Linked DNA regions of Homo sapiens. The protein of the gene in region 2 purifies or fractionates together with the protein of the main gene of each other region. This does not show direct contact. Each region holds a gene or a part of one and is shown on either strand. Other genes may lie near its edges. The genes, in order: MAOB, LPAR2, KDELR3, SLC27A4, RFT1, GPR180 and CD47.

Region 1 (3,500 bases), on a different chromosome or scaffold from region 2:
CATAAGGTAAATTGGTAAAACTTTCTTGGGCGACAATTTTGCTATAATTATTAAATGCCTTAAAAGAATTTCTAACATTTATCTCTGGAAATTTCCTAAAGAAACAATCAGAATTATGTACAACAATTTAGGTTCATAACAGCTTTGTTGAAAATAGCAGAAAGTTTGAAAAAAACACAAATGTTCAGCAATAGGAGATTGATTCAACAAGTTGTGATACAATCATATGAACTAATGTTATAAAATCATGAAAAAACATTTAAGACATAGGTAAACATTCATAACATGTTGGTATTTATTTTTAAAGGGGATACAAATAAGTACAGTAAATACAACATAAAGTTTGCATAAAGAAAATATAGGTGGCAATAGTAACAGTGGTAAATATTTTATGGAGTTCAATTATGGATGATTTTCATTTTCTTTTTGCCATTTTCTATAATTTACAGATTTTCACAACAAATGTTTATTATTTCTGCATTCATGCTATTAAAAAAGATACTCACACCTCTCTAAAAAATGTCCTCAAACTGTAGATCATCAAGATGGAATGTGATTGCATCTTTCATTTCTATCAGTGGCCTTTCTTCTTACCAAATGTTTGAAGTAATTTTGGTTATTAACTAAATTGGTTATTAATTCTTAACTTTATCCTTCTGAAAAAAGATGCTTTGCTGGATAACAAAAGCTCTTCCAATGAGCTTGTTTCTTTAATGTAGAAAACTGGAAAATAACCCAAAGAAATGAGATATAACTAAAGACATAATTATCAATACACAATTTAATACACACACACCACTGGGATCACAGCAATAAAAAGTAGCCCAACTTCAAAATATGAAGTAAGGATTCCAAATTCAATTAAAAGAATCATTAAAAATGTTGGAGAGGTTAAGCAAAAGGGACGATTATTTAGGCTAGAAGGAGAGCAAATAAAACTAAGTATCTAGTAGGACATTTTCATCATTGTGTAATTCTGATAAATGTTATTGAGGAGGAGAGTAGAATTAAAAATGGCCTAGCTAAGAGATGCATAACATAAGATCAAGAGCTCAAATTTCAGATATGAAGTGGAAATTAGATAGTATATGACATTTAAGATGCCATTAAATGGAGACTATGGTAAGATGACTAACATTTGAAAGGTCAGACCTACCTGAAGATGTTTTCTGATGGTGCCCCTCTCTCACAAAACAAAAGGTTTAAATGACATTTTTGTTCGTTTTTGTTTGCTTGTTTGTTTTTGAGATGGAGTCTGTCTCTGTCGCCAGGCTGGAGTGCAGTAGTGCCATCTCGGCTCACTGCAACCTCCGCCTCCCTGGTTCAAGCGATTCTCCTGCCTCAGCCTCCCGAGTAGCTGGGACTACAGGCGCCCACCACCACGCCCGGCTAATTTTTGTATTTTTAGTAGAGACAGGGTTTCTTCATGTTGGCCAGGATGGGCTCGGTCTCCTGACCTCGCGATCCGCCCGCCTCGGCTTCCCAAAGTGCTGGGATTACAGGTGTGAGCCACTGCACCCGGCCGACAGTTTTTATATAACAAATAAGATGAACTATTCATTTTGTGTTTGAGATTGCCAGAGATACACGTTTTATCATTTAGTAAACTGGGTCACAGCCCTTGGGAAGAAAATCTCTGTTTTTAGTTTTTTAAAGAAGAAAAAATGTAAATACAGTCAAGTCCTTCAATCCCAATGATAAAACTTTGGAGGGAAGTTTGCAAAAATAAAATATAGGTGGCAATAGTAACAGTGGTAAATGTTTTATGGAGTGCCTACAACTTCATTAAATTACAACTAATTATTGTTTGTGATACTTCTTTTCTGGATAGGCTGCCAGCAAGACAGTGAAGAAAGCCAAGTGCAACTTTGGACACCTCCTTCTACTCATTCTTCCCTTCTTTCTATCCCCATTTCTCTTGAAACCTCCCTTGGGCATTCAGAATAACCCAATACATTATAATCAGCTGATCACCTCTCAATCCTTTCCTGAATTTCTATCCATGTTTTGGCTTCCCTGGTTATCAGGCACACGACCATCCACCTTATCTTTATAGTATAAACTGTCAATGGCTCCCTATTTCTTACCACAGGAAAACCTAACTTTTCACTTTGTTTTTCAATTGCTCGTTTTTGGATCCTGCCCCCCTCCTACTAACTTTCCTTCCCATGTCTCCCCTTCCTTTTATTCTAGACAAGCTGGACTTTCTACTGTCCTGTAAATATAAAGATCACCTGCTAACTGAAGTCTCTGGCCCTATGATTTAAATGATTCTTCTCATCTTTAAAGCCTCTCTCTTCTCTACCCTCCCAAACCTGGACTGTTCTTCAGAATCTGTTAAATTCTACTCCCTTAATGAGACCTTCTCCAACTCCTGGGGTCTTTAATGATTCTTCTAACTTAGTCCTTGGGTCCCACAGTTCAGAATTCAATTATACATTAGTTTAATTGTTCCTTATTGCATGTATGTGCTAGTCTTGTGTCTCCATCTGCATTTTAAGTTTCCTGAGGCTGGGAACTTAGTCTTACTCTTTTTCTATACCTTCCTTCAGTAAATAAATGCATGCTGACTTAGGAAACATTGCTAACAGGGACTTGGCTTTCTGTATCTTTATTTACTGAGTTAACAGAGGAGGCCAAAGATGGATCCATTTTGTGAGCATGAAAACAGAAAGTAGAAATAGTGCATTCAAAGTATTAGTGATTCTAACCTCTCACCCAGCACCATTTGATCAGGTTGTCCTTCTGTTTGCATTTTCTCCTAAGGCTGAGGGCTCATCCTCCAGGACAATAATTTTATTCAAAAGAAGGGGCTGTGAGGTCTGGAGCCAGCCCTTTGCACTCTCTAAATGTGCTTTTTCTTGGATGCAAAACCAGGCGATCTTAACTAGTAGGTAAAACTCTAAAGATGCTTCCGTCTTCAGTCACCAATGATTCTATTAAACCAAAGTATTTTTTAGCTTGGTCTTCTAAGTTTGTTCCTTGAATATTCAAAATCAGGAAGGAATTTTATACCATTATGGCCTCCTCTTAGGGGAAATAACAACTTTTATGCAGACACACTACTAATAAGTTAAGCCCAGCGAATGAGATTCTTGCAAAAGCACAATGGTACACATTTAACCTGAGCAAATTTCCAAAGCATTCTCTTGTGGGGCTGAAAACACTCGTTCTTCAGACACATATTACACCTGAACGTGGCCCCTCAATTTGGCTCACTTTTGCACCCTTCAAGGGTATTCGATCTTGCATGATTCCAGGGTGCCCTCAATTGAGTACTGCCCAGTGACTTGTACAAATAACAAAGTTAACATTTATTGAGAATTCTAGGAGTTAGCCCAGGAACACTCACCCGCTTTTCAAGTACCAAGAAAAATTGAAGAAACTTGGCTGAAGAAGTACCAAGACAAATTGAAGAGACAAGCTCTTTGAAAGAGCTTTTGATATCTAGCAGGGCATCTTTTGCAGAAGGATAAATTGAAGAATTAATAACCACATTT
Region 2 (4,173 bases):
ACACCTGCCTGCCTCCTTCACGGACTCGAAGTGACCTTCCTGGAGGAGGTGGGCAGCTCAGACTCCACATGCTGGTGGTGCCTGAGGTCTGATGGCCTCTAATAAACTGTGTCCTATATGCCCTTGGGTGCATCTCTGCTAGGGGAGAGGCCAGCATGGGTAGCACTCCTTGCCCCCATTTTACAGATTAGGGGAATCAAGGCCTCTTTTTTTTTTTTTTTTTTTTTTTTTTTTGAGACGGAGTTTTGCTCTGTCTCCAGGTTGGAGTGCAGTGGCACGATCTCCGCTCACTGCAACCTCCACCTCCCGGGTTCAAGCGATTCTCCTGCCTCAGCCTCCCGAGTAGCTGGGACTACAGGCGCCTGCCACCATGCCCGGCTAATTTTTTTGTATTTTTAGTAGAGACGGGGTTTCAGCATGTTGGCCAGGATGGTCTCGATCTCCTGATCTCGTGATCGTCCCGCATCGGCCTCCCAAAATGCAGGGATTACAGGCGTGAGCCACTGCGCCCGGCCTCAAGGCCTCCTTCTTGCATCATCAAACACCCTGCAGCACCTACGTAAAGGCAGTTGGAGCTGGGTCGCAGCACCCGGCTGAGTCACGCCAGCCCGGCCCTCCCGGAGCTCTGCGTCCCCGATCCGGTCCTGCATAATCAAATACAGTATAACAAAGTACCGATAACCGGGACAATGGGGCTGTGTGCTCCGGACCGTGGGAGCCCGGGGCCGCCGCAGGGAGGCCGAGGGAGGAAGCCACAGGGCAGGGCAGGGCAGGGCCGGGCTTTGCAGGGGGCAGCGCTGTCCCAGGGTGAGGGGTACGGGGGCGGGATTGCAAAACCCTAGCGTGCGCCCGATGATCAGCTGGGGCCGCAGAGGTGGGCCTCGCACAGGAGGCCGCGGCTCGCTGATACTGCGAGCTGGCAAAGCCGAAGCTGGGCGGGGGTCCGGGCGGTGGGAGCCAAGTCGGATCAGGGAGTGGCTTGTAACTCGGCGGCCGATTGGACACGAAGAAGAGAGCGGGGTGGGGCTGGGAGGGTTGGGGGTCCGGAGCGGGGGCGCGGACCCAAGACCACCTGGAGCTCCGCCCGGGCAGCGCGGGGTCACGGCGGGAATTTTCGGGTCGCCGAGTGACTCAGCCCCGCAGGCTCGAAACTGCGGGCGCATGAGGTGTGCAGGTACCGGGGTGGGGGTCCCGCGCCGGAAATAGGGGCGACTGAGGGGCCGCGAGGCGGGGAGGAAACAGGGGGGCTGCGGTTCCGGGCGACACCGCCCCCGACGCGGCCGTGGAGGCGGGGCTCCCCCAGGTGGCGGGGCGGGGCAGGGCTCCCCCAGGTGGTGGGGGCGGGGCGCCGGGGAGACCCCGCCTCCCGCGCCCTCTCAGCAACCCGCACAGGGCGCACCCGGACGCTCTACCGCTCCCGCCGCAGTCGCCGGGCCATGGGCCTCGAGCCCGCCCCGAACCCCCGCGAGCCCGCCTTGTCTGCGGCGTGACTGGAGGCCCAGGTGAGGCCTGCACGGACGGGAGGCGGGCGGGTGCGGGCCTGGGCCCGGGGGAAGGGCGCGGCACGTGCCTGCGGGGCCAGGACGCCGCCCTCTGATCCCTTAACCCCCTACCCCTTCCCCAGTCTGGAGACGCCTGGAGGCCCGGCCATCCATCCCTTCCCCAACCGCTGTCTTTGTCCCGGAGACCGCCAGTGTCCTCCGTCCCACCCGGAACAGCCTATTGCCCCGCCCGCTTGGGAAGCACTCGCGCCCAAATCCCGCCGACTAACTTCTGGGGCCGCCTCTCTGTCCACTCCGATCACCTCCACGCCTCGGCACCGCCCCCTCGCAGGGTTCTAGCAAGTGACCTCACCCTTGTGTGCACACGCTCCCGGGTCTCTGCTCCCTACACTGACTCCGGCACCAAAGTGATCCTCCCTCATCTCTTCCCGCAGCTCACACCCCTTTGTCTTTCCCTAACCCTCCTCTCCCCACAACCCAAACCGGGTCACACATTGGCGGCAGGTGGGCTGGGATTCGACCATAGATGGGTTTTGTTTCACTTCTGGTTCAAAAACCTATTGACTTGGGTGATGTCTTGCACACAGGTCTTATTAGTAGGTAAGAAACAGCTGCTCCTCCACCTCCACCCCAGCCCCATGGAGCTTGCTTTTTCCAGGCCACCGTAGTCCTCACCACTGCCACTTTGCTTCGAGGTATCTGAATTTGAGACCCTTGTCCTTCCTGCGCTGACCCTCCTCTGCAGCTGCCGCCCCTCCCTGTGTCCTTCCAAGAAGTGCCACATGCACTGATCTCTTGTGTCCCCAGATGGTCATCATGGGCCAGTGCTACTACAACGAGACCATCGGCTTCTTCTATAACAACAGTGGCAAAGAGCTCAGCTCCCACTGGCGGCCCAAGGATGTGGTCGTGGTGGCACTGGGGCTGACCGTCAGCGTGCTGGTGCTGCTGACCAATCTGCTGGTCATAGCAGCCATCGCCTCCAACCGCCGCTTCCACCAGCCCATCTACTACCTGCTCGGCAATCTGGCCGCGGCTGACCTCTTCGCGGGCGTGGCCTACCTCTTCCTCATGTTCCACACTGGTCCCCGCACAGCCCGACTTTCACTTGAGGGCTGGTTCCTGCGGCAGGGCTTGCTGGACACAAGCCTCACTGCGTCGGTGGCCACACTGCTGGCCATCGCCGTGGAGCGGCACCGCAGTGTGATGGCCGTGCAGCTGCACAGCCGCCTGCCCCGTGGCCGCGTGGTCATGCTCATTGTGGGCGTGTGGGTGGCTGCCCTGGGCCTGGGGCTGCTGCCTGCCCACTCCTGGCACTGCCTCTGTGCCCTGGACCGCTGCTCACGCATGGCACCCCTGCTCAGCCGCTCCTATTTGGCCGTCTGGGCTCTGTCGAGCCTGCTTGTCTTCCTGCTCATGGTGGCTGTGTACACCCGCATTTTCTTCTACGTGCGGCGGCGAGTGCAGCGCATGGCAGAGCATGTCAGCTGCCACCCCCGCTACCGAGAGACCACGCTCAGCCTGGTCAAGACTGTTGTCATCATCCTGGGTAAGTGGGGCCCCCAGGGGGCAACAGGGACCCTGCTTCCCCCTATCTCCCACAAGACACTGCGAAGCAATGAACAAAACAAGCTACCTGATAGAGGGTGATGGGGGATGATTTAGGTGGGGAATGTCCTCCAAGGAGGTGATAATGTATGTGAGCAGAGGCCTGAATGCTGAGGATAGGAACAGAGAGCCTTCCAGGCAGAGGAAACGGAAAGTAAAAACCTCAAGGCAGTACGAGGCCAGAGCCTCTAAAGAGGAAAGTGGGCTTGTGAGGAGGAGAGATCAGCAAGGCCTTAAGGGGCACGGACAGGAGTCTTATTTTGAGTTTCATGGGAACCCCTTAAGAGTTTTTAGCAGTGCTAGCCGGGCACAGTGGCTCACGCCTGTAATCCCAGCACTTTGGGAGGCCGAGGCGGGCAGATCAGCTGAGGTTGGGAGTTCACGACCAGCCTGACCAACATGGAGAAACCCCATCTCTACTAAAAATGCAAAATTAGCCAGGTATGGTGGTGTGTGCCTGTAATCCCAGCTACTCGGGAGCCTGAGGCAGGAGAATTGCTTGAACCCAGGAGGCGGAGGTTGTGGTGAGCCGAGATCACACCATTGCACTCCAGCCTGGGCAACAAGAGCGAAACTCCAGAACTCTGTCTCAGAAAAAAAAAAAAAAAAGGAGTTTTTAGCAGTGCTAAGCCTGTTTTAACAAAAAGCCTTTAAATTGTTTTTTAATCTATATGTATTTTTAATTTTTTTTTTTTTTTTTTGAGACAGAGTCTCGCTCTGTCACCCAGGCTGGAGTGCAGTGGCGCAATCTCGGCTCACTGCAACTTCTGCCTCCCAGGTTCAAGTGGTTCTCCTGCCTCAGCCTCCTGAGTAGCTGGGACTACAGGTGCGTGCCACTATGCCTGGCTAATTTTTCTATTTTTAGTAGAGACCAGGTTTCACTATGTTGGCCAGGATGGTCTCGATGTCTTGACCTCGTGATCCACCCGCCTTGGCCTCCCAAAGTGCTGGGATTACAAGCATGAGCCACCACGCCCGGCCCATATTTTTAAATTTCAAAATTTATTTTTGTTTTTAAGATACAGGATCTTACTCTTGCCTAGGCTGGATTACAATGGCTCCA
Region 3 (4,240 bases), on a different chromosome or scaffold from region 2:
CTGGGATTACAGGTGTGAGCCACTGTGCCCAGCCCCCCGGTGATCTTGAGCACAATAGTTTTCACACTTTTGAAAACAATCATTTCCACCAGGAAGCTGCACATGGAGACCCGGGACACAGAGGACAATGTGAGCCTGGACTGGCCAGAGTCCCTCCGGGGTCCACTAAGCATAGGTGGACCCCACTGCCAGGGGCAGCCCTCACTCCCATTTGACAAATGGGAAAACACAGGCCCAGGGTCACACAGCGAGTCAAGGGGAGGAGTGAGAGTGAAGCCCAAGTCTCTGGTCTTTGGGGCTGGGTCTGTTGAGGTCATACCAGGCCCTGCCTCCATCACCTCTGACTTCTCTCTGTGCACACACAGGCCCATCCCTGCCACCCAGCTGCCCTTTTTCTGTTCCCATAGTACTCACTATGGCCTCCAACAAACCGTGTCATTTGCTCAGTTTCCTAGGACTATTGTTTATTGATGGCTTCCTACCACTAGAAAGTCAGGTCCACCACTTGGCCGGGCATGGTGGCTCACACCTGTGACTCGAGCCCAGGAGTTCGAGACCAGCCTGGCCAATATGGCGAAACCCCGTCTCTACTAAAAATACAAAAATTAGCTGAGTGTGATGGCGGGCGTCTGTAATCCCAGCTACTTGGAAGGCTGAAGCAGGAGAATAGCTTGAACCTGGGAGGCAGAGGTTGCAGTGAGCCGAGATTGCGCCACTGCACTCCAGCCTAGGGGATAGAACAAAACTCTGTCTCAAAAAAAAAAAAAAAGAAGTGGGCGCAGTGGCCCACGCCTACAATCCCAGCACCAGCACTTTCGGAGGCCGAGGTGGGTGAATCACCTGAGGTCAGGCGTTCAAGACCAGCCTGGCCAACATGGCGAAACCCCGTCTCTACTAAAAATACAAAAATTAGCCGGGTGTGGTGGTGCGTGCCTGTAATCCCAGCTACTCAGGAGGCTGAGGCAGGAGAATCGCTTGAACCTGGGAGGTGGAGGTTGCAGTGAGCCGAGATCACACCACAGTACTTCAGCTTCAGGGACAAAGCGAAACTCTGTTAAAAAATAAAAATAAAAAATAAATAAAAGAAAGTCAGCTCCACCAGGGCTGGGCCTCTGCTGTCCGGGCTGTATTCTAGGTGCCCAGCAGTGTCTGGCAGACAGCGGCCAGGTACCAGTGTCCCCTCTTGGTCATGGTTGCTCACTCCGTGCAGGGCCTTCTGCAAAAGTGCAGGAAGAGGTTGGAGCTGATTCTCCCCTCACCAGGGCCTGCTGCTCCGGGTCCCCCACTCAGCATTCCTGGCCACCTCCCCTGAGGAAGAACCTGAACTGTCTCTGTACCTGTCTCTCCAGAGACCCCAAACCCAAATGGCCTCCAGGCCTAGAACCACTCCCTCCACACCGTACTGTTGCTCATGTCTGCACCAACCCCCACCCTGCCAGGCCTCCCCCTGCTCTGTGCCTTTTCTCTCAAAGCTTGCAAAGCAACCTGTTCAGGCCCCCTTCCAGGCCCCTTCCCGGCTCCCAAACCATGAAGGGCTCCCCAGACCCAACTCCCTGGCCTGGCAGAAAAGGCCCTTTCACATCTGGACCAGCCTCCCTCCTGGACTCATCTCCCTCCAGACCACCCCAAATCTGGCTGCCCACCCTTCCCGGGGGATGCCCGGTGCTTGGTGACCTCCATGCCTCTTCATCCCCGGAGCCCTCCACAGCACACACTTCCTGGATTGACACCTGCTCGTCCTCCGGGACCAGCACGGAGCTGCTCCTTCCACAGGGCCTTCGGGGCCCACTCTCAGCCTTCTCAGCCTCCTCAGCCCCACGAGGAGCCTGAGCTCACTCCTGCCTCTGCACACCCAGTGCCAGGCACAGGGAGGGCACCACGAGGATGCCGGTGGACAAAGATGGCTGGAGGAGGCTCTGGCAGCCTTTCGTGGCTCTGGATCTGTTGGCGACCGCGAGTCCAGCCTCCAAGCTTCTCCAAACCCCCAGCAGGGCAGCCAGAATGCAAACAGGGGACCCCTCCAGCCTTCCCCGGCTTCCGTTTAGAGGCAGCTCCATACCCGCCTGAGCCCGGCTGGTGCCCTCCTGCCACATCACAGCCACCGGTGCCACACATGCAGGCAGGGGAGGGACGAGGGCTCACTTTGGGGGGCGGGGTGGGGTCTGGGAAGGGGCAGGGAAGAGAAGACCTTGAGAATCGTGGGCCGTTCCTGAGTGCATATCTGCTTCTCCCCACAGTCGATGGTGGAAGGAACAATGGGTGTAACTGGTGGGAGGGAGGGGTTGTCACCTCCCTTATAACCCCCTCTTCCAACCAGCAGTGACACTGCCAACCTGAGGGGGCGTCTGTGCAGGAACAAACCCACCCGCCTCCCATCATCTCGAGGGGTCCTCCTCCTCTGATTTTATACAACTTTACATTGTTTTTGGAAGTGGAGCTCCGCAAAGTTTCAAGGACCCCCACGCCGGAGTCCCCACCCTGAGCAGACACCTGGAGCGCCCTGCCCTGCACGCAGGGGCATGAGGCTGGCCAGAGAGGGGGTCCCGCACCTCCCTGCCAGGCGCCCCTCACCCTTGCAGCACTTGGACCTCCAGATCTTCCCCAGCAGCAAGATCATGGCCAGGAGGTGGCTCAGGTCGCCGAGGATTCGGAACACGTTCATGGTCCAGCCAGTCAGTCGTGCGCCCGCGCCCAGCAAACTTCTAGGAAACTTTCTGGCGGGCAGGGCGGCTGCCACGTCTCCGGCCCCGGTCTCTAGGTGCCCCAGAGCCCTGCCTGCGCCTCACAGCTCCGCGATCGCACCCGCGCGCCGCCGCCCACGCACTCTTGGCCGGGCGGTGACGTGGCCAGGGCGGCCGCCGGCGCAGGGTGGGGAGCCAGGAAGCGGCGCGGCCCGGAGATCCCGCCTCCCGCCCATCCCAGCGCCCGGCTCCCGGACTGGGCGGCCCGGCGACGCGGGGGGGCTTCTGGCCTGCGCCCGGCTGCCGTGTGCGCCGGGTGCCCGCCACGACCCATGTCGCCCATGCCCCAAGTGCCCTCTGCCTTCCCTCCGCAGAAACTGGAGGCCTGCCACCAAGCCCCAATCTCTGCCTCAGTTTCCTCATCTGTACACAGGCCCCATAACACTGGTGCCAGCGCTTGGCAGGAGCCAGCACGTGGAAGTACCCTGTGGGGCGATTCCTGCTATTGTCCTCATCTTCCCGGAGCTGGAGCTCCCTCCCTGGGAGAGTGGGGTGGGGCGGGGCGAGCCGGAAGCGGAGTCCCCACCTCCGTCTGTTAATTTGGTTGTCCACCCGGTCGGGACCCGATCTTGCTGCAGGTGGACAATGGTAATGGCACACCACTCAGCAGCAGAATCAGACTGACCTCGGCTGCAGCCTGGGTCGGTGGGCCTTCCTCTCTCTTGGTCTCAATTTTCTCACCTGTAAAATCGGGTTGTTGTGGGTAGGCAGGAGGTCAAGCTGGTCAGGGAGATCCAGGGCCCTCGTTCGTGCCTTCCCTCTTCTTGGTGTTACTAGGATGTTAAACAGGGACACACAGGACAGGAGAGACCCAGGAGGGCTGAGCACCAGGAAGGGTGGGGAGTGAAGGGTCCCTGGTGGGAGGGAGTCCTCCCAGGGCTGTGTGGTCTGAGCAGGTCCACCACCCCCTCTGGATATAAGTCTCTGCGTCTGAAAGAGTGGACCAGGTGAGCTGAGGGCCCTTAGCCTCCCCTCCTTGACCTGAATAAGCCCTCCTCCCATTCAGCGCCCTCATCTCTCTCTAAATAACGGACCTCCTCCCACTCCCACCTCCTGCCACAGATAACCAGAGAGGCTTTTCCATGACAAATGTATTTAAACAGAGATGGGGTCTCACTGTGTTGCCCAGGCTAGTCTCGAACTCTTGTGCTCAGGCCATCTGCCTGCCTCAGCCTTCCAAATGCTGGGATTACAGGCATAAGCCACTATGGCCAGCCTCTTTTCTGTGATAAAAATCTGTCACTTCAGTGGTCAAGACCCTTCTATGGCTCCCTATGCCCCCTACTTTCCCTACTTTTCCTCCCAGGGAAAGGCAGTCCTTTTTTTTTTGAGACAGAGTCTCGCTCTGTGGCCCAGGCTGGGGTGCAGTGGCACAATCTCTGCTCACTGCAATCTCTGCCTCCCTGGTTCAGGCGATTCTCATGCCTCAGCCTCCCAAGTAGCTGGGATTACAGGCGCCCGCCACCACGCCAGGCTAATTTTTGTATTCTTAGTAGAGA
Region 4 (3,500 bases), on a different chromosome or scaffold from region 2:
GCCACCGCGCCCGGCCAAGCAATTCTCTTTTCTCACCCTCCTGAGTAGCTGGAATTACAGGCAAACCCCACCATGCCCGGCTAGTTTTTCTATTTTCAATAGAGATGGGGTTTCACCATGTTGTCCAGGTTGGTCTCGAACTCCTGACTTCAAGTGATCCATCCACCTCGGCCTCCCAAAATGTTGGTATTACAGATGTGAGCCACCATGCCCGGCCCTCATTCATTCATTTTCATATTGACTCCAAATGACCCTGAGTCCAGGCTGCTTGAGATTTATTCTGGCTCAGCTCCTTAGCTCTGTGTCATGGGCGAGTATTCAGCCTCACTGTGCCTAAGTCCCCTTATCTACAAACTGTGCCCATGGCAGCACCCACACATGGGGCTGGCCTGAGGATTATGTTTCATAAAGAACATAAAACTCTGAGTGGGTCCCGGCATGGAGCAGAGGCTTGGGGCGCTGGCTTTGTTAGGCTGTCCCCAAGGAGCCTGACTTATGTTCATCCTCCCATCAGTTTCGAGAACAAACATCACTGGCTCAGTGTGTCCGACCTGCCAAGATGAGCTCCTGGGCTGGGGGAGGGTGGGGCATTTCTGTGGCAAGCAGCATGACTCAAATCAGATCAAGACACAGAGTACAGGCTGGGAGTGGTGGCTCACACCTGTAATCCCAGCACTTTGGGAGGCCGAGGCGGGTGGATCACCTGAGGTCAGGAGTTCGAGACCAGCCTGGCAAACAGGATGAAACCCATCTTTACTAAAAAATAAAAAAAAAAAATTAGCTGGGCCTGTTGGCGTGTGCCTGTAATCTCAGCTACTCAGGAGGCTAAGGCAGGAGAATTGCTTGAACCCAGGAGGTAGAGGTTGCAGTAAGCCAAGATTGCACTGCTGCACTCCAGCCTGGGCAACAAGAGCAAAACTCCGTCTCAAAAAAAAAAAAAAAAAAAAAGACGCAGGGTACACCTGGTGACAGGACGGGTGGGAGAGGCTGCCTAGGGCAGATCTGACCCTGCCTTCCCCACCCCAGGTGAGCCGGGCCAGCTGGTGGGCCGCATCATCCAGAAAGACCCCCTGCGCCGCTTCGATGGCTACCTCAACCAGGGCGCCAACAACAAGAAGATTGCCAAGGATGTCTTCAAGAAGGGGGACCAGGCCTACCTTACTGGTGGGTCCCCAGCCCTTCACAGCCCCTTCCTGAGGGTTGGGGGAGGAGGGGACCTTCTCCCACCTCCAGAGGACACCTTCCCAGGACTCCCCCAGTCCTGGCCCTTGTGGTCAAACAAATCCTTGGGCTCCAGCAAAGCCTCCCTGGCTTGAGCCCTGGTCTCAGAGCTGGCCAGGCCCAGCCCTGCCTCATCCGGCCCCTCCCTAGGTGATGTGCTGGTGATGGACGAGCTGGGCTACCTGTACTTCCGAGACCGCACTGGGGACACGTTCCGCTGGAAAGGTGAGAACGTGTCCACCACCGAGGTGGAAGGCACACTCAGCCGCCTGCTGGACATGGCTGACGTGGCCGTGTATGGTGTCGAGGTGCCAGGTATGTGCAGGCAGGCGCGAGGTGTGGGTAGGGAGGCACCACCCAGGGGCACCACCAGCTACTCAGTGTCTACCCTGCCACCCCCAGGAACCGAGGGCCGGGCCGGAATGGCTGCTGTGGCCAGCCCCACTGGCAACTGTGACCTGGAGCGCTTTGCTCAGGTCTTGGAGAAGGAACTGCCCCTGTATGCGCGCCCCATCTTCCTGCGCCTCCTGCCTGAGCTGCACAAAACAGGTGTGTCCCTCCCCTGCTCCAGCTCTCGGATCCCAGGTCCCTTCCCGTTTCCTTCTGGAGAGACCCGGTTGGCTGTTACTTGACCTCTGCACACAGCCTGGCCGGGCAGTTGGTAAAGTGACCTGCCTGTGTAGAGGTGAGCAGACGGGGCTGGCAGAGAAGACACACATTGTTCCTTAGTAGAACACATATTAGGTGCCAGGCACAGCGCTAAGCCTCGGGATACGGCTGGTGAGCTCTGGATGTTTTGCCTTCTTGGAGTTTTAGAGCAGGAGAGAGGCTGGCCTAGGACAAGGCATTCCAAAGGTAAAGAATCGACCACATAATCTGTCATGAGATTAGAGTTAAACAGATAAAAAGAAAAATGAACCACAGAGCAAGCTGATAGGAAAGCAAAAAGGTGGGACGCTTGGGATGACTAGAAGGCTCCTCTGAGGAGGGGATGGTTCAGCTGAGACCTGAATGAAAGGAAGGACTTTATGGCGGTGGGAGGCACTCTAGGCTGCAGGAATAGACACTGTAAAGCCCCCGAAGCAGGAAGGAGCTTGGGTGCTGGAGGAACGAAAGGGGGCCCCCAAGGCTGGAGCCAAGTGAGAGGGGCAGGCAGTGGCATGAAGTGGGAGAGAAACCAGCAGGGGCCAGAAGCCCAGGGCCTTGCAGGCCAGGGTAAGAGTCGGGACTGTCCCGGGGGCAGTAGGGAGCCACAGAAGCATCTCAGCAAGGCCGGGCGCAGTGGCTCATGCCTGTAATCCCGGCACTTTGGGTGGGAGGCCAAGGCGGGCAGATCACTTGAGGTCAGGAGTTCGAGACCAGCCTGCCCAACATGGCAAAACCCCGTCTCCACTAAACATATAAAAATTAGCTGGCTGGGCGTGGTGGCTCACGCCTGTAATCCCAGCACTTAGGAGGCCAAGGTGGGCGGATCATTTGAGGTCAGGAGTTCGAGACCAGCCTGGCCAACATGGTGAAATGCCATCTCCACTAAAAATACAAACATAAAAATAAAAAAATTAGGCTGAGCATGGTGGCTCACACCTGTAATCTCAGCACTTTGGGAGGCCAAGGCAGATGGATTGCCTGAGCTCAGGAGTTTGAGACCATCCAGGGCAACATGATGAAACCCCGTCTCTACCAAAAATACAAAAAAATTAGCCAGGTATGGTGGTGGGCGCCTGTAGTCCCAGCTACTTGGGAGGCTGCAGCAGGAGGATCGCTTGAGCCCCGGAGGTGGAGGTTGTAGTAAGCTGAGATCACGCCACTGCACTCCAGCTTGGGCTACAGAGTGAGACTCCGTCTCAAAAAAAAAAAAAAAAAAATTAGCCAGGCATGGTGGTGGGCGCCTGTAATCCCAGCTACTTGGGAGGCTGAGGCATGAGAAGCACTTGAACCTGGGAGGTGGAGGTTGCAGTAAACCGAGACCGTGCCACTGCACTCCAGCCTGGGAGACAGAGTGAGACTCTGTCTCAAAAAAAAAAAAAAAAAAAAATTAGCCGGGCGTGGTGGTACATACCTGTAATCCAGCGACTCGGGAGGCTGAGACAGGAGAATTGCTTGAACCCAGGAGACCCAGGAGCCACAGGTTGCAGTGAGCTGAGATCATGCCACTACACTCCAGCCTGGGCGACAGAGTGAGACTCTGTCTCAAAAAAAAAGCATCTTAGCAGGTGGGAACCTGGTCAGACTCATGCTCTACAAAGCTCTCTGGCTGCTGTGTACGGAGTGGGAGAGGA
Region 5 (3,500 bases), on a different chromosome or scaffold from region 2:
ATAGTCGAGTTCCCAATCTCTGCCCATAAACTTACTAATGCCTTCCTCATGAGGCCTCCCCACAGCTGCCAGATGGAAATACACTTCTCACAGCACAAGCCCCAGGGAGCTGCAAACCACTTCACTGGTTTCACAGCAGGTGTTTCTCCAAACTTAATGACCTTTGCTCTGGTATAGAAACCTGGCCCTTCCTCCCCTAACACCAAAAGTTTGGGCCCCATTGTAGTGGAGACTAAAACATGCTAGTGAACTTGTAAAATGGCATTTGACAAAGCCCTTTATATTGAGATGGGGCAGCAGAAAGAAGTCCTCAGCGTTCTTGTCCAGCGACCTGAGAAATTAAAAACATCTTTGCTAAACCCAAGATGAAGCACTGCAAATGGACTGCCAGCTTACAGCCCAGCACATTTTGAAATTGATGAAGTCCCCAAGACCTAACAAGTGCTGTGAGATCCTCAGCGGCCTGGTGTTTCAAAATTAGACACATTCAATACTTTTCTTCTTCAAAAACTGAGAGTCACTGGATTAAATATACCATTTTATTTGCAGAGATCAATTTTATTCTCTGCAAATGGCTTTGGGTTATCCTTCAGAGGCTTTTATGCACTAGGCTGGGAGATTTATGTGGCATTTACTATCTTCAGATGTGTTTAGTACCAAGTGGAGACTCATTACCGTCTGCCCTCTGCCTTCCTCCCTCACCCCAGAGGGAGCACAGGGAAGCGCTTGGCAAAACACATTCTAGGCCCGAGAGGAAAGCCAACAGCAAGGAGAAGTCCTAATAACTTCTCCAAGTGAGGCTGGGGAAGCTGATTGTCCTGGCGCCAACGCCCCTGCCTATACCTTGAGTGTGTGTCTGGAGTTGAACGAGGGGAACAGTCCCACAGCCCCTGCCACCAGACAGTTTTCCCTACACTGACACAGATAACAACTGTGTGTGCACAAGTTCTTGAATTTCGTGACTCTTCTATTTATGTTGGGAAATCAGAAAAAATCCAGAAAAACTCTTGTGCGTACCGGATCCTGAGCTAAGCATGGTCCCTCCGTAGATATCCAGAGCCAGCTGAGAATAGGCAAAGCCAAAAACAGTGATGGTCAGGCCGGCCAGCAGGGCCAGCTTGAGCAGGGACTCCAAGACTGCAGCAGCCACAGCAACGTCCTCCTGGGGCCAGGGAAGAGGGAAGGAAGTTGGATGAATCATGAGCTGAAGAAAACCTTCATCCTTCACGTCTGGCCTTCTCCCTTCACTGTTTTACAGTTCACTCTTCCAACAGCGTGATGGATATCACTATTTTTTTGTAGTGTGTTTGTTTTCACGTCAGTTAGCAAATGAAGGAAAAAGTGTGTGTCTCCTTAGGTCGTAAGGGGGAGGGTTAGTTTTCAATTCACTTGGGATAAATTGTTTCAAATATTGCTTAGGAAACACTCACTTTCCCCTCTGATATTTGTTCTTTTTTTTTTTTTTAAATAGAAATAGAGAAGGGAGTCTCACTATGTTGACCAGGCTAATCTCAAACTCCTGGCCTCAAGCAATCCTCCTGCCTTGGCCTCCCAAAGCGTGAGGCTTACAGGCATGAGCCACTGCACCAGACCACTAATATTTATTCTTAAATGTGCAGCAAGTTTTCATATACACTAGCCAGCTCTGTGCTTCTCCTGCTAAACATTCCAAAATTATGATGATACTGTGAAGGTACTCTTAGGAAAATATTCCTAAATCAGACTGAGTACCAGATTAGCTCATTTTGAGATATTGTGCATAAACTGTATTTTACTAAATTTCTTCTAAGACAAGCAAGAGGCTGAACTAGCTTGCTATTCTAAGAAAAGTCAGACATTTTCAGTGGTTTTGGAAAAAGTGAAGCTCCTACAACAAAATACTCCTAGATTAAAATCTCTTCTTCTGTATTTACCAACCCGAGTATACAGAATCTTACAGTCAGAGTGTAGCTCTGGGCATGTCCCAGTTGTAAGAAGCTTAAATAATTGGTGTGGTGAGCGAAAGCCAACAACCACTTCCTCTCCTCCCTATGCCCTTGATTAGCCTGGCTCCAACTTCTGCATCCTTTGGCTCTTGAGACTCTGAGGATAAGGGAAGCATTCTTACGCCTAAGACTAGCCCATGGCTGGGCATCTGCAGGGCAATGGGGACAGCTTTAGAGTCCTGAGAGGGCTGGATCAAGAGTAAGGTCACATGGCCAGGTATGGGGGCTCACACCTGTAATCCTAGCACTTTGGGAGGCTGAGGTGGGCAGACTGCCTGAAGTCAGGAGTTCAAGAGCAGCCTGGCCAACATGGCAAAACCCCATCTCTACTAAAAATACATAAATTAGCTGGGTGTGGTGGCGCATGCCTGTAGTCCCAGCTACTCAGGAGGCTGAGGCAGGAGAATCGTTTGAACCTGGGAGGTGGAGGTTGCAGTGAGCCGAGGTCATGCCACTGCACTCCAGGCTGGGCGTCAGAGCAAGACTCTATCCCCGCCCCCCCCCCCAAAAAGAGTAAGGTCACAACGAATAACAAAGGTGTGAGAAGGAAGGGACAGCCAAGAGCAAAGCAAGAAGGCCACGAAAGAAGAGGTGAGCCCTGGGTCCCACTATCATGAAGAATGTAATAGAAGAATGAAATCTATAAGAAAATTCCTGATCAAACAGAAGAGAAACAGACTGCTTCACACTCCTGTCTGTCTTGCAATTAAAGGGAGAATTCACTTGAGAGATGACATAAGAACCAACATTACCTGCTTCTGAAGTGTGGCATCCTTTCCCCTCTCCAGCACCTTAGCAAAAAATATATAAAAACTTTCCTCTATTGGCTGGAAAATTAATCTGGCCACAAGGGAGCCAAGATTATTCACTATATCATACACACCTACAAAACAAAAAAGAAGAAACAACAATCATGTTGGTTTTTCTATTTTAATTTTTATAGCACTATTAAAATTATTTAATATTTTCATTAAAGTTTGTTTATCTTGAGATAATTATAGATTCACACAGAGTTATAAGAAGTAATAGTGGCCAGGCACGGTGGCTCATGCCTATAATCCCAGCACTTTGGGAGGCCAGGGTGGGTGGACTGCTTGAGCCAGGGAGTTTGAGATGAGCCTGGGAAACACGGAAAAACCCTGTCTCTACAAAAATGGAAAAATTTAGCCAGGCGTGGTGGTGTGCATTTGTAGTCCCAGTTATTTGGGAGGCTGAGGTGGGAGGATCACCCAAGCCCAGGAGGTTGAGGCTGCAGTGAGCTGTGATGGTACCACTGCACTCCAGCCTGGGCAATAGAATGAGACCCTGTCTCAAAAAATAAAAAATAAATAAAAAAGACAAAAAAATAGGAAGTAATAGAGGGATCCCATATATACCCTTTACCCAGTGGTAACATTTTGTAAAACTATAGTACAATATCACAACCAGGATACCAACGATGATACAGTCAAGATACAGAATGCTTCCATCAACAGTACTTTCTTATACAGGTCATTAATGCAAAGTTGATGTTTT
Region 6 (3,500 bases), on a different chromosome or scaffold from region 2:
CTCTGGATGAACCATTTATCTTCTTTCAAAAAATGTAAAAACACATAAAAAAGCATTATCTGACAAAGAAAAGTAGAAAAGATTTTTATCTTTAATTAGAGTTTGTAGTATACACTTAACTTTCTGTAATCTGCAGTGATGAATCTCTATGTAAACATTCAGAAAAAGAGCGAATACTGTGTCATGACTTATGAACTATAAATTTTGTCCCTGATTACTAGTCAAGAACAGTTTTATACATTTATTAACAACTACTTTCCTCCACTTAACAACAGCTCTTAAATAACAAAATAAATTATCAGCATTTCCAACCATAAATTTAAGAATTAAAGTTTAAAAAACTGGTTAGTTTCATAAATGCAAGCAGAGTAATAAATTTCATATATGTTAATTGCAGTTACTTATGTTCTTTGAGTGAAGTAACACAAAGATTTTTCCCTTCCCCTTTTGGCAAGTTCACAAAATTCATGAAAAGTCTTCATCTTTTTCTTTTTTGCTTAATTTCTTTTTTGCATCTCAGCTGAACACAACAGACAATAGCTGGGGTTATTAGCGAGACATGATAAAAGAAAAGGTTATGACCACTCAGACGATCATGTATACCTAAAACATAACTCAGACTTTCTAGTCTTAACCTGTAGCTCTAATGTACTAAGTGATTTACAAAGAACTAATAGAGAGATGATTTAATGAGCAGGTTGAACTTGGTAACTTTGTCATTTTGGGTCACAAACACATATTCTGCCCTGAAAATGAGGCAGAATACTAGTCATTTCCAATGAGACTAGGTACAAAAGAAAAACAAAAACAAAGCCATAGATATTTTTAAGTTGCACTACATTATTTTAACTATTTAATTAAAAAATTTAACTACCAGATCAGTGCACTGTTGCTTGCTTAAACACACAGTAAATAGATAAAAAATATTTTTAAAATAAGCCAGAAGTAAAAAGGAAAAGGCCTGAACAGCTTGACAAACAGCAACAGAATAATTTCCAATCAGTGACTATTAATGGGAATACTCATTTTATACAGCGAGTATTGACAACCATTTAGCAATTCTTTAATCAGGCACTTGATATTTTTTAGCTAGCATACTCAATACTGGGGCATCACACACACACACAAAAGTATGGCTTTATTACAAAGGATTCAAGATGGCAACTACTTAGAATCCAGTGCCAACACGGATTATAACAAATCCAGTGAGTGTTTTGTTTTTCAATTATTCATAGAAAATTTAATCCTGATTAAGTATCCTTGGGCAGGAATTCATGGGTAGTTGATGACTGAAACCAACATTTATGTGAAATGCTTCTGTTAATTTAATCTGTGTATACGGCTTAATTATGATTGGGGATTCAACGTAAGAGAAATGAATTCTATTGGGATCAAAATTTCAGTACCATATCACATAGTACCTTTTCCCTTCTTTCTGTTTAAACACATAAACCTGCTTGTCCCTTCACCTAAGTGCTCAGATTTTAAAATCCTTTGTCCTTACAACCCGTGTAATGTATTTAAGTTTTATTTTTTCATAAACTGTTTGTCAAAAACCTTTGCTAATCAAGCTAAAACCTGAACTAGAGCCAAAAATGGCAGAAAAAATTGGAGAATAACTCCACCCACAAATAAACAAAAGCTTATTCATTTAACTGTGAACCTATTTTATATTCATTTCCTGAAGTAATTTCAATTCCTTTAAACTCAAATATGAAATACATTTTCCTTAAAGCATAAAAAGCAGCAGTTTTAAAAATCAATGTATTACACTGATTTCATAACTGGACTAGTTTAGATATTTATAAGCAAGTAATCATTTAACTGATTACTTTTTATAAGACTATTAAACCTGAGTTAGCTATTAAGATGAGGCATTATAAGTGGTGAATATTTTACCAAAATATCATAGTTATTTTTCACATTTATTTCCACATAGAAATCGCTTCAATAATTTTATAACAACACTTTCTTCAAAGTTTGTTGTTTAAGTATATTTCAAAACATTTCATTTATTACCTTTTTTTTCAGTCTTGGTACTGCTTAAATGCAGTTATATAAATAACATGCTCTGCTTTCGCTGTTCAAGTTTTCATACTAAATGTATGAAAAAAAAGTCACTGTATTTGGATCCTTATTGCACTCTTTTAACCAATTCACTTTTCCTCTCAACAAAAATCAAGTATCAGAAATGAGGGCGACTTTTGTGTCCAGATGATATGGTCAGTGGTAGTGTTACTGAAGAAAGTGAAGAAACTTCCCAGTATAGACTGTGAGACAGAAAGAGTCTGTAGAGAATAACCATGGAAACAGACTGGCAAAGGATAACACCTATTGTAATAACCTGAAAAGAAAAGGAAAGGAATGCTTTTACTACATGCAGAAATAGAGAAATAATATTCAATTTATTATGAATCTATATATGCTTTTTATATAAATACAATACTCTATCTTTCATCTTTACCATAGGTACATTTTATCAAAAAAATTTTCTGACTAATGCTCAGAACTCTAATTGTTTAAGGATAAAAATCCCTTTAACAGTTATTTTGTAGATGACAAAGTAAGGCACAAAAGAATAACTTGCTAAACCATTCTCTCCTAAGGGTATGCACTACAGACAAGTTTCAGTAAATAAGAAAAATCAGGTTCCTAGCTAATTTAGGAACAGGAATAAAGCACGCTCCTACCTGAACTTTAAAGAGTACTCTAAAAGCCCTTTCAAAAATTCTCAAGTTGCTTCTCTATTTTTGTAGACTACTGTCCTATCTATTCACCCTTTGTAAACACCTCAGGCTCAATAAACATTTGTGCATTCAGGCACATACTGCATTGCTTGTAAAGGGCTCCTGGCAGACCTCTATTTTGAAATGATGGAGCCATTCACCTAAGAAGGTAGGTATCAACACAATCAAAATGCATCATACTTGAGCATGGCACTCTGGTTTGTAGTCTGTTCAATAACTAGACTGATTTTTACAAATCTTGATTTTTGCTATTATGTAAGAAAAATTTTAATCATTTTTTAAAAGATGTATTATAAATTCTCTAATTTATAAAACAAAATTTCTATTTTAAAATTATCTATTGTAGTACAATCAAGAAAAGCTATTTCCACCATTTTGCTTATAAATATTTTAAAAATATTTTAAACTTCAAATTTATCTGCTTATTGGTTTACTATTTTGTTTCAAAGTTTTAAATAACCCAGAAAATGTCTTAAAAAATAAATAGGTCCCTCCTATTTAAATATTCTCCCAATTAAGACAATATTTTCATTAAGAAAACTACTTTGATCATGTATATTTCTTACCTTGTCTCTTTGGTAGTCGCTAAAAATGACAGAAATGCATGCAAGAACTGGATGGCATAAAAACCACAAGATACAGCCCTGAAACAAAGGAAAAAGTGAAATAAGTAGAACTGTGTAGCTTTTTTTCAGCATGTACCAGACAAAAAAATGTTACTAGCATTTTTAGGTTCTGATTAACCTCAACAGG
Region 7 (3,500 bases), on a different chromosome or scaffold from region 2:
TTGAACAGAAACATGCCATGAACCACTCAGCAGGAGGGGGATCCTACTGAACAGAGAGGCCCATTCCGCTGGGACCTGGGCTGGATGACAGCACTGGATTTTCTCATCAGCAGATGGAGGCACGCCTCCAGGACTGCTCTGTGTTCCTTACTATTTATTTACCACCACTGCACACTCGAATTCTGTCAAGCTTCCAAAGCTGGCAGGGAAAAGGGTGGGTCCTGACCCAAGGAAAGCCAATCTGTGAGCCAGCCAAAAGCTGGTGAGTCTTTCTCAAACAGGAAAAATGGCAACAGACTGGACTGACAAGTTTCTCCCTGCCACTGGACTCTAAGAAGAAACAGAAAAAAACCCAGAAAGTTGGTGATGGGAAGGGAAAGTGAAAAAGAAACAGAAAGGAGACAAGGATGAGTCCAAAGCTGTAGGTAAGAAAAGTTGTCTGTGAGAAGGCATGAATAGGATAAAAAACAGTGGCATAAACAAGAGGGTGAGCTAGCTGGCTAATAGGCAAAGAATCAAAGACAGAGGAACTCAGGAACTATAACTGACAGGGGCATCACCTTACTCTTGCTGCTGAGAGGGCAACACGATGCTTCAGTTCTTTGATATGGAATGGATCCTTCCAATTCCTAGACTACATACTGTCCCACCCCTGTGAGGCCCAGTTATGTATCTGAGCTCATAGGAGTCCAGTTTCTGTTAGTGCCATGGGCGGCTTTAAATAGGCCTCCCTTACTGTGGAGGAACCTGGGGGAGTGACTTGGTCCTTGTATCCAAACAAGAAGCCAACCTCTTTTTAAAGTAGAACAGGGTAAAATGGGTTGGGATGCACTACATTTAGCAGCCTCCCCAATAAACTAAGCAGAAATACAGAGCTTTATTTGGGAACATCAGGATAGTTACATGTATATACAACTGACTTCAATGAAACCATGCCTTATATCTATGTTCTACAAAGAAAAAGAGAACTAAACAACTATCTAAATTTCTGATGGTAATATGGAAGTTCAGAGATAAGGTTTTAGAGTTACATTTTTGAGCTCATAAATGTATTTATCAGAATAAACACTGCCAGGTGTAGTGGCACATGCCTGTAGTCCCAGCTACTTGGGAGGCTGAGGTGGGAGCATTGCTTGAGCCCAGGAGCTCGAGGCCAGCCTGGTCAACATAATGAGACCCTGTCTCTAAAAACAAAACAAAACAAAATAGAATATTGCTAACCGCCAAGTAACTCCTTTTCTTCCCTAATAATGTAGAAAGAATACTTTCTAGTTCTAAATCTCCGATCCAAGGGATGTCACAGTTGGCTGGCCCATTCTGAAAAAAAAAGATTTATGAAGAATGGTACTTCAAAGGGACATCAGTCAGTTGTGATCCCTCTAAATATTATAAAACCAAACAGTGTACAAGTTAATTTCACCTGAGTTAATTCTCTCCAATATGGATATAACCCATGTGACAAAAGAATTATTACGATTTCTGCTGCTACCATGAGCCTAAGACATTGACAGCCATATATATATATTTTTTAACCACAAGCCTTAAGCATTCCATATGAGCATACTTGCAATGCTTCTTGATTTGTTCTTCTCTCCCTGAAACATCTGACTCCATGCCATAAATACATTTCCAGGGTTTAAATTTTTCAGAAACATTTTTTCTATTGATACCAAATTTACCTCTCCTTAAATTGAACAAGAAAATATCTGAATTTGTATCTATACATAGATATAAATTCTACGTATATATTCTGCATCTGCATCATTCTAAAATATCTGGGATGTTGTGGTAAATATGGTACTTACTGCTACCAGATTGATTTGTATCAAAACACTATATGCCCTTATATTGAACTAACTGGTAATGGCTTTAAAAATGAGAAAGTATTGATCCTTATAATTATATAAACGTTCTCTACAAACAACAAGCCCAACTTTAGTGAGTTTGGTTAGGTTCTTGTAATCTTTTCTATGCTTTCACATTAAGTTATTGTGCCCAGTCCTTTTTCTCATCTTATAAAATTAAAATGCTTCCAATAAAAGAAAAAAAATACAACACAGTTTAAAAAGTTAAAAAATAGAAAGTGAAAGTCACTTTCACAGAAAGTTGTAGAAAGTGAAAGGCCTACTCTTTAAAATAGCAAATTAAGGCTACAAATTTAAAGTTGGAAATAATAAAAATTATAAAAGTTAAAAATCTCATAGCGACATTAACTTCTTCTTGAAGAGAAAGCTTGGATTTTTAACTATTTGAGGATTTTATTGCATTTAAATCAAAACACAATCATTAGGCTTTTCTAAAACAGAACACGTGCAATGAGTAAAAATTATTTTGGAGACACTTAAAATTTTAACTTCCTAATATAAACGCTCAAATTTGCAACCTTAATGTTACATAGATTCAGATTTACACAGTCAGATTATATAAGCAAACCATATTAATGTTCCTCCTAGTCTACCATGTTATCTAAAGAGCAACTTTCCTGTACCTTGTCTCTTCTTGCCTTTCAACTGACTGTAGGTGTCCCTCTGAACCCTGGCATCAGACAAGTTGATTTAAAAAGTTAATTTAGGATACTATCAATAAAATTAGGACACTATCAATAAAATTGCACTAAATTTTAAACATATAGCATAAATTTTAGCATATAGTATACTTATATGCTAACCTATGACAAAGAAAAAATAATTTGGGGTACTTGTCAAGATTTAAGTCATTTTAATTTTAATGTCAGAACAGTGACAGGTACAGTACAGTGGTTTCACAGGCTTGGAGGAACGTAAGTGATGGAGAAGGCAGGAGAGTGAAGTTAAGGAGGTGGCAGATAGACAATGCTTAGTTCCACTTGAGACATTGTCACCAGACCTGCTGGCAACTGTACTGAAGATCATTCTATGCTAGATATGGAAGGCATGGGGTGGCATGGGAGTAAAAGGGAGGACAACCCAGATAGTGAGGAAAAAATAAGAGCGTGCTGCCCGTCAGCCAAAGGTATCTCATACTACTTCACCAGAGTTGTATGGATACTGCAAATCACACACTATTCTCAGGCATTTGTGGGGAGCAACAAAACCAGGAGTGTCATCTTCCAGAACCAGACACATGGTGATTGGAAGATGTAACAAAAATAGAATATGCACCAACATTCAAGATGTTCACTGTAGCTACCACATGAATTCCATTCTGCTTTAGATGTCTCCATTGTATTTTATGGCATTATGTGGTATAAAATTAGAAAATTTCATTGAGCAACAACTAAGACTTATGAACTCATATGCTAAGGATACGCAGATTTTAGTTAAGTATTTTAATTATTTATCTAATAAGCATTAATTAAAGAAAGACACAGAATATATGACAGAATTGAATTCAATTAACAATCATCAAGAACCAAAGTTCAGAAATAAAGGTAAAAGTTTTTTGAAACTATTATGTGAGTCATATGAGAAATTATTTGACTATAACAATTCAAGTTTCGTATTAAGTTTTAGAAACACATA

What was found.
Region 1: the proteins of LPAR2 (region 2) and MAOB purify together in Homo sapiens (affinity purification with mass spectrometry; one large-scale study listed by BioGRID and IntAct). This does not show direct contact.
Region 3: the proteins of LPAR2 (region 2) and KDELR3 purify together in Homo sapiens (affinity purification with mass spectrometry; one large-scale study listed by BioGRID and IntAct). This does not show direct contact.
Region 4: the proteins of LPAR2 (region 2) and SLC27A4 purify together in Homo sapiens (affinity purification with mass spectrometry; one large-scale study listed by BioGRID and IntAct). This does not show direct contact.
Region 5: the proteins of LPAR2 (region 2) and RFT1 purify together in Homo sapiens (affinity purification with mass spectrometry; one large-scale study listed by BioGRID and IntAct). This does not show direct contact.
Region 6: the proteins of LPAR2 (region 2) and GPR180 purify together in Homo sapiens (affinity purification with mass spectrometry; one large-scale study listed by BioGRID and IntAct). This does not show direct contact.
Region 7: the proteins of LPAR2 (region 2) and CD47 purify together in Homo sapiens (affinity purification with mass spectrometry; one large-scale study listed by BioGRID and IntAct). This does not show direct contact.

The regions. Positions count from the first base shown.
Region 1 is NC_000023.11:43,872,451-43,875,950, forward strand, and holds part of MAOB (amine oxidase [flavin-containing] B), read right to left. Parts: intron 1-3,500.
Region 2 is NC_000019.10:19,625,421-19,629,593, reverse strand, and holds the start of LPAR2 (lysophosphatidic acid receptor 2), read left to right. Parts: upstream 1-1,373; 5' UTR 1,374-1,502; intron 1,503-2,309; 5' UTR 2,310-2,318; coding exon 2,319-3,051; intron 3,052-4,173. UniProt on the Homo sapiens protein: Receptor for lysophosphatidic acid (LPA), a mediator of diverse cellular activities. Seems to be coupled to the G(i)/G(o), G(12)/G(13), and G(q) families of heteromeric G proteins. Plays a key role in phospholipase C-beta (PLC-beta) signaling pathway.
Region 3 is NC_000022.11:38,466,656-38,470,895, reverse strand, and holds the start of KDELR3 (ER lumen protein-retaining receptor 3), read right to left. Parts: upstream 2,801-4,240; 5' UTR 2,663-2,800; coding exon 2,572-2,662; intron 1-2,571.
Region 4 is NC_000009.12:128,354,027-128,357,526, forward strand, and holds part of SLC27A4 (long-chain fatty acid transport protein 4), read left to right. Parts: intron 1-1,026; coding exon 1,027-1,164; intron 1,165-1,371; coding exon 1,372-1,536; intron 1,537-1,623; coding exon 1,624-1,770; intron 1,771-3,500. UniProt on the Homo sapiens protein: Mediates the levels of long-chain fatty acids (LCFA) in the cell by facilitating their transport across cell membranes. Appears to be the principal fatty acid transporter in small intestinal enterocytes.
Region 5 is NC_000003.12:53,102,936-53,106,435, forward strand, and holds part of RFT1 (man(5)GlcNAc(2)-PP-dolichol translocation protein RFT1), read right to left. Parts: intron 2,869-3,500; coding exon 2,738-2,868; intron 1,163-2,737; coding exon 1,018-1,162; intron 332-1,017; coding exon of another isoform or gene 279-331; exon of another isoform or gene 260-278; intron 1-259.
Region 6 is NC_000013.11:94,625,857-94,629,356, reverse strand, and holds part of GPR180 (integral membrane protein GPR180 precursor), read right to left. Parts: intron 3,392-3,500; coding exon 3,314-3,391; intron 2,345-3,313; coding exon 2,186-2,344; 3' UTR 1-2,185.
Region 7 is NC_000003.12:108,053,032-108,056,531, forward strand, and holds part of CD47 (leukocyte surface antigen CD47 isoform 1 precursor), read right to left. Parts: intron 2,536-3,500; exon of another isoform or gene 2,489-2,535; intron 1,318-2,488; exon of another isoform or gene 1,222-1,317; intron 1-1,221. UniProt on the Homo sapiens protein: Adhesive protein that mediates cell-to-cell interactions. Acts as a receptor for thrombospondin THBS1 and as modulator of integrin signaling through the activation of heterotrimeric G proteins.